2 linked regions of the Homo sapiens genome follow. The protein of the gene in region 2 interacts with the protein of the main gene of each other region in a pairwise test. Each region holds a gene or a part of one and is shown on either strand. Other genes may lie near its edges.

Region 1 (3,821 bases), on a different chromosome or scaffold from region 2:
GGACTCCACTGCAGGAGACCACAAGGACCGGGCTTGGGCATGGGGGACATAGTGCTATGGCTGGGGCAGTCCTGTCCCACAGGACTCCAGGGGACAGACGGACAGGAGGGGGTGGCCCAGCCTAGGAGGGGGCGTGGCCATGTGGACAGGAGGGGTGGCCCGGCTAGGAGGGGGCGTGGCCATACCGGGGTCTCCACGGGTGGCTCCTGGGGCCGGGGCTCCTCTGCCCGGGGCTGCACCTCCTGGACTGTTGCCTGCAGGCAGCTGGAGCACCTCCAGGTCCCACTGCTCGTGTGTCCACCAGTCAGAGACATGCAGAACAAGACAGCGGGTGACAGATCCCCAAACCCACGGGTGGAGCTCCAGGGCTCCGACCATGTCTTTTCACAGAGGGGGAACCGAGGCACAGCAGAGAGATGGGCAGAGACACAGGAAGGGAGAGCCCAGCAGGGGGACATTTACCCTTCGTGGGGTGGCCCTGGCCAGCGTGATCAGGGTCCCCTTGGCGTGCTCTCTGATGAACCCCAGGAATCCCCAACACCTGCGAGCCCTGGTGGCTTTGCCTGCCTCTCAGGGCTGGGCCCTGCCGGGGGCCTCCCTAAACTGACCCACCTGTTAAGGGGAATGGCACCCAGCAGAATGGGGAGGTGATCAAGGGCAGAAAGAGACGGCAAGGAGGAACGGCTTCAGGAGCCGAGCAATGACCCCCACTGTGCCCCTTATTCTAGTGATGAGGCACAAGGCTGAGAGGGGGCCTGATGACGGCCACTCAGGGGCTGGGGCAGAGCCTCGCCTGAACGTGGGTCCCCACTGCACCCAGAGCTCTTCCTCCCACAGACTGCCACGTCCTGTGGGGTTGGAATGGGGGCAGGGCTCGGTGGGCCGTGGGGAAGGAGCACCGGGATGTGAACGCAGAGGAGGCCTCCCGCCCCCACTAAGCCCGGCGTCCTGTGCATTGGTGGACAAACTCCCACCTGCCCTGGGGGGCACAGCTCTGTGGCCTCTGTGCTCCCCAGCCCTGTCTGGAGTGGGACTCTGGGGTGGGGCTTGGGGGTGGGGGCCGGCTACCCATGGGGGCGTGGGCTGCAGCCTGGGATGAGCTTGGACAGGGTGGCATCTTCGCCCTGGGCCTCTGTTCTGCTTTGCTGCCCTCAGGGGCCCAGCTGTCCAGGCTGGGCAGCAGGTGTGGCCAGACCGGGAGGCAGGTGGCAGGGTGGGAAAACCCCAGGCCCCGGCCCCACGGCCCAGTGACCTGACTCAGAACCCCTTTCCATCTTGGATGGGAGAGGCTTGGGGTGGCTTCCCTTCAGGGTCAGTGGGTGGAGGCGGCCGTGAACCGGGGTGGCCTGGTTGCGCTGGCAGAGGTGCAGGCTCACCTGGGGATCTCCCGGAGCGGAGGGGACAGGCAGGCCAGGTGGAAGGCCCGAGGGCAGCCGTCACAGCAGATGAGCTCCCCGCCGTCCCGACACACGGCACACTCGTCCTCATTCTTCTGGCACAGGCAAGAGACGCCCATGCAGACTGGGCTGGGGTGCAGCACCCTCCTGAGAGCCACCTCCTTCCCAAAACAGCTCCCCCAGCAGCATCTCTGGGTACCTGAACTCCCCAGTCTCTGCCCTGCTCCCATGCTGCCAGGGCCTGAAATTCTGCCCTGACCACCTGTTCCCCATCCATCTGGTCTCCAACAGACACCCCCCGGGGCCATCCCTATTGGGAAGAAAACCCGGTTTCTTGCAGGCTGCTGCGTTCCAGGGGCCCCGGAACTGTACACCAACCACATGAACCCTTCCTCACAGGGCAGTGGGGCCAGGCCCAGGGAGGTCTCTCCCGACCTCAGCGCCTGCTGAATCCTCCACCTGCAGCCCCCACCGTCCTTGTGCCCTGCCTGGATGGTGCCTGCTGTGCCTTCAGGGGTCTCCCAGGTACCACTTCCTCCAGAATCCCCCCAGACAGCCAGGCTAGGCTGGTCCTGCACGGCAATGACCTCACTCATTCTAACAATCCCCCAGACGCCCACCAGCCCGGGTGCTCCTGCAGGGCAGGACTGGCTCCTGTCACTGCTAAGTGCCAGGGCCCCACAGAGCCCCTGGTGCCAAGTGGTCAAGATCTGTAACCCACCACGGCAGGCACCCCCCACACTGCTTCTACCCCATTAAGAAACCATGCTGGGGACGAAAGATGAGCATGGCATTCCCAGTGGATCCTTGACCTCCTGGCTATAGCAGGGGCGCCCGGCCCACCCACGGGCCCAGCTGAGAGCAGCGGGTACAGCCTGGACCAAACGCCATGCTCTTAAGAGCCTGAGAAGACCTCACTTTCTCTGACTCATTTAAACTATTACCATTGCGTATTATCAGGAAAAAAATACTGTCTATTAAAGAAAAAGAGCTGTACCCTGTGGGTAGGGGCTCAGGCCCCGGTGCTCATCCCTGAGTGCCCAGGTAAAGGCAGAGGCAGCAGGACCCACCCGAGGGGAGCAAGGGCAGACAGGGGCCTCTCCTGTGGTCTAGGGCATTACCTGGTGGAGCTGGGGGTCACTGGGGAGGGCCAGAGGGGCGGGAACGCTGCCCTGCTGGCCCAGCCTAGCCTCACCTCCACCCTGCAAGGAAGAGGGGCGTCAGCAATGGGGGCAGCCTCAGCAGCGAGGGTGCACATGGCTGTGGCACCAGGCGTCTCTCGGCAGCAGCCCCCAGCCCCCAGCAGAGCCACTCCCCCAGAGGCAACGCTGTTCCTGGGGCGGGGGGCATCAAGAGCCAGGCTCCCCAGGGAAGGTCAGGTGCTTACGGGGGCAGCGCCCTGGGCTCCCTTGGCTCGAACCAGAGGCTTCGGGCCACTGCTGCTGCGGGCCTTGTTCTTCCCACTGCCGGAGTCTTCGAACTTGCTGGGAGTGTAGAACTCCCCGCCAACCTGGATGCACTTCTTGGAGCCGCCTGGGAGGAGATGCCGGCTGGTCCTGGCTCACCCGCCCAGCAGGACCTGCCTTGGCAGTCGTGTAGGCCCCAGGGTGGGGTCTAGCAGAGACAGGTGGAGTTCCCACAGCCTGCATTCCTCCAGCCCGCCCCCACCCCAGTCGAGTCTGGGGCCCGGGGATTGTCCTGGATCTACACCAGGGTGTTCAACAGCGTCCCCCGAAGTTCACGTCCACCCAGAACCTCAGAGTGTGACCTTACTTGAAATCAGGGTCTTTGTAGATGTGATTAGTTAAGATGAGGTCACACTGGACCATAAGTTCAATGACTGGTGTCCTTATAAAGAGGACACGTGGGAGACAGCTGTGAGACCACAGAAGCAGAGGCTGGAGCGGTGGGTCCTGAGCCCAGGAACAAGGAGCACAGGGGTACCCCCATAATGACCAGCAGCTGGGAGACACAAGGAAGGATTCTTCCCTGGAGCCTCCAGAGGGAGTGTGGCCCCGAGACACCTCGATGTTGGCATTTCTGTCATTTCAAGCCTCCCAGTTTGTGCCAATTTAACCAACAGCCTTAGGAAGTAACACAGTGGGCCTTGGGACCATCCAGAGGTGCAAGACCAGGGCCCTGGCTGTGCTTGGTGTTCCCAGCCCATGTCCAGCACCGAGGAGACACCGTGTCAGGGACTTGAGATGGAATGCCCCGATGGCACGGTGGGTCTGCCACCAGCGGCCCTGCTGTGCCCTGGTCAGATGGCACTGGTGATTGCATGGGGTCAGCGGCTGGCCAGGGAATGGCGGGCGAGGATGCTGCAGGCTGGCCAGGGTATGGGGGGCAAGGACGCTATGCTACAGGCTGTCCTGGTTGAAGAATGCCGATACCCTGGAGGGTCTCAGCAGCACAGGCAGAACT
Region 2 (3,821 bases):
TCACTTGAAAAATTAGAACTCAATATTGTTTGTAACTAAAGTTGTGAGCTGTTCCTTAGCACATTTCTCAAACTATGGCCTATAAGTGCTCAGTTGCGGAAAAGCAGTCTTGTCTCCCAGCACTGCAAATCAAATTTCTATCAAGACTAGATTCAACTACCAGTTTATAGTAAATACAGGGACATATTAATTGACACTGTGGGGTGCAATCAGCAAAACCCAGACTGTGGGAAACTGTAGGACACATGACTCAGTTTCTTCAACAACAATTACAGGAGAAAAAGGTGGGAAGAGCAGACCTGTAGATCAAAAAAGAATTACTAGACATATTAACTCACCACAATTATGGAGCTTATTTGTATCCCACTGCAAATGTTTTAAAATAATTTTTTAAATAAGAGAAAAAGACAGTTGGAGAAATGTGAATTTTTTTTTAAAATTTAAAGCATTTCTTTTTTTTATTATTATCATACTTTAAGTTTTAGGGTACATGTGCACAATGTGCAGGTTAGTTACGTATGTATACATGTGCCATGCTGGTGCGCTGCACCCACTAACTCGTCATCTAGCATTAGGTATATCTCCCAATGCTATCCCTCCCCCCTCCCCCACCCCACAACAGTCCCCAGTGTGTGATGTTCCCCTTCCTGTGTCCATGTGTTCTCATTGTTCAATTCCCACCTATGAGTGAGAATATGCGGTGTTTGGCTTTTTGTTCTTGTGATAGTTTACTGAGAATGATGATTTCCAATTTCATCCATGTCCCTACAAAGGACATGAACTCATCATTTTTTATGGCTGCATAGTATTCCATGGTGTATATGTGCCACATTTTCTTAATCCAGTCTATCATTGTTGGACATTTGGGTTGGTTCCAAGTCTTTGCTATTGTGAATAGTGCCACAATAAACATACGTGTGCATGTGTCTTTACAGCAGCATGATTTATAGTCCTTTGGGTATATACCCAGTAATGGGATGGCTGGGTCAAATGGTATTTCTAGTTCTAGATCCCTGAGGAATCGCCACACTGACTTCCACAATGGTTGAACTAGTTTACAGTCCCAACAGTGTAAAAGTGTTCCTATTTCTCCACATCCTCTCCAGCACCTGTTGTTTCCTGACTTTTTAATGATTGCCATTCTAAATGGTGTGAGATGGTATCTCATTGTGGTTTTGATTTGCATTTCTCTGACGGCCAGTGATGATGAGCATTTTTTCATGTGTTTTTTGTCTGCATAAATGTCTTCTTTTGAGAAGTGTCTGTTCATGTCCTTCACCCACTTTTTGATGGGGTTGTTTGTTTTTTTCTTGTAAATTTGTTTGTGTTCATTGTAGATTCTGGATATTTCCTTTGTCAGATGAGTAGGTTGCGAAAATTTTCTCCCATATTGTGGGTTGCCTGTTCACTCTGATGGTAGTTTCTTTTCCTGTGCAGAAGCTCTTTAGTTTAATTAGATCCCATTTGTCAATTTTGGCTTTTGTTGCCATTGCTTTTGGTGTTTTAGACATGAAGTCCTTGCCCATGCCTATGTCCTGAATGGTAATGCCTAGGTTTTCTTCTAGGGTTTTTATGGTTTTAGGTCTAACGTTTAAGTCTTTAATCCATCTTGAATTGATTTTTGTATAAGGTGTAAGGAAGGGATCCAGTTTCAGCTTTCTACATATGGCTAGCCAGTTTTCCCAGCACCATTTATTAAATAGGGAATCCTTTCCCCATTGCTTGTTTTTCTCAGGTTTGTCAAACATCAGATAGTTGTAGATATGCAGCGTTATTTCTGAGGGCTCTGTTCTGTTCCATTGATCTATATCTCTGTTTTGGTACCAGTACCATGCTGTTTTGGTTACTGTAGCCTTGTAGTATAGTTTGAAGTCAGGTAGCGTGATGCCTCCAGCTTTGTTCTTTTGGCTTAGGATTGACTTGGTAATGTGGGCTCTTTTTTGGTTCCATATGAACTTTCAAGTAGTTTTTTCCAATTCTGTGAAGAAAGTCATTGGTAGCTTGATGGGGATGGCATTGAATCTATAAATTACCTTGGGCAGTATGGCCATTTTCATGATATTGATTCTTCCTACCCATGAGCATGGAATTTTCTTCCATTTGTTTGTATCCTCTTTTATTTCATTGAGCAGTGGTTTGTAGTTCTCCTTGAAGAGGTCCTTCACATCCCTTGTAAGTTGGATTCCTAGGTATTTTATTCTCTTTGAAGCAATTGTGAATGGGAGTTCACTCATGATTTGGCTGTTTGTCTGTTATTGGTGTATAAGAATGCTTGTGATTTTTGCACATTGATTTTGTATCCTGAGACTTTGCTGAATTTGCTTATCAGCTTAAGGAGATTTTGGGCTGAGACAATGGGGTTTTCTAGATATACAATCATGTCATCTGCAAACAGGGACAATTTGACTTCCTCTTTTCCTAATTGAATACCTTTTATTTCCTTCTCCTGCCTAATTGCCCTGGCCAGAACTTCCAACACTATGTTGAACAGGAGTGGTGAGAGGGGGCATCCCTGTCTTGTGCCAGGTTTCAAAGGGAATGCTTCTAGTTTTTGCCCATTCAGTATGATATTGGCTGGGGGTTTGTCATAGATAGCTCTTATTATTTTGAGATATGTCCCATCAATACCTAATTTATTGAGAGTTTTTAGCATGAAGGGTTGTTGAATTTTGTCAAAGGCCTTTTCTGCATCCATTGAGATAATCATGTGGTTTTTGTCTTTGGTTCTGTTTATATGCTGGATTACATTTATTGATTTACGTATATTGAACCAGGCTTGCGTCCCAGGGATGAAGCCCACTTGATCATGGTGGATAAGCTTTTTGATGTGCTGCTGGATTTGGTTTGCCAGTATTTTATTGAGGATTTTTGCATCAATGTTCATCATGGATATTGGTCTAAAATTCTCTTTTTTGGTTGTGTCTCTGCCCGGCTTTGGTATCAGGATGATGCTGGCCTCATAAAATGAGTTAGGGAGGATTCCCTCTTTTTCTATTGATTGGAATAGTTTCAGAAGGAATGGTACCAGTTCCTCCTTGTACCTCTGGTAGAATTCGGCTGTGAATCCATCTGGTCCTGGACTCTTTGGTTGATAAGCTATTGATTATTGCCACAATTTCAGCTCCTGTTATTGGTCTATTCAGAGATTCAACTTCTTCCTGGTTTAGTCTTGGGAGAGTATATGTGTGGAGGAATTTATCCATTTCTTCTAGATTTTCTAGTTTATTTGCATAGAGGTGTTTGTAGTATTCTCTGATGGTAGTTTGTATTTCTGTGGGATTGGTGGTGATATCCCCTTTATCATTTTTTATTGCGTCTATTTGATTCTTCTCTCTTTTTTTATTAGTCTTGCTAGCGTTCTATCAATTTTGTTGATCCTTTCAAAAAACCAGCTTCTGGATTCATTAATTTTTTGAAGGGTTTTTTGTGTGTCTATTTCCTTCAGTTCTGCTTTGATTTTAGTTATTTCTTGCCTTCTGCTAGCTTTTGAATGTGTTTGCTCTTGCTTTTCTAGTTCTTTTAATTGTGATGTTAGGGTGTCAATTTTGGATCTTTCCTGCTTTCTCTTGTGGGCATTTAGTGCTATAAATTTCCCTCTACACACTGCTTTGAATGTGTCCCAGAGATTCTGGTATGTTGTGTCTTTGTTCTTGTTGGTTTCAAAGAATATCTTTATTTCTGCCTTCATTTCGTTATGTACCCAGTAATCATTCAGGAGCAGGTTGTTCAGTTTCCATGTAGTTGAGCAGTTTTGAGTGAGTTCCTTAATCCTGAGTTCTAGCTTGATTGCACTGTGGTCTGAGAGATAGTTTGTTATAATT

What was found.
Region 1: the proteins of HEXB (region 2) and AIRE interact in a two-hybrid assay, tested with the Homo sapiens proteins (one large-scale study listed by BioGRID and IntAct).

The regions. Positions count from the first base shown.
Region 1 is NC_000021.9:44,288,766-44,292,586, reverse strand, and holds part of AIRE (autoimmune regulator), read right to left. Parts: intron 2,931-3,821; coding exon 2,785-2,930; intron 2,600-2,784; coding exon 2,519-2,599; intron 1,493-2,518; coding exon 1,377-1,492; intron 286-1,376; coding exon 186-285; intron 1-185. UniProt on the Homo sapiens protein: Transcription factor playing an essential role to promote self-tolerance in the thymus by regulating the expression of a wide array of self-antigens that have the commonality of being tissue-restricted in their expression pattern in the periphery, called tissue restricted antigens (TRA).
Region 2 is NC_000005.10:74,709,076-74,712,896, reverse strand, and holds part of HEXB (beta-hexosaminidase subunit beta isoform 1 preproprotein), read right to left. Parts: intron 1-3,821. UniProt on the Homo sapiens protein: Hydrolyzes the non-reducing end N-acetyl-D-hexosamine and/or sulfated N-acetyl-D-hexosamine of glycoconjugates, such as the oligosaccharide moieties from proteins and neutral glycolipids, or from certain mucopolysaccharides.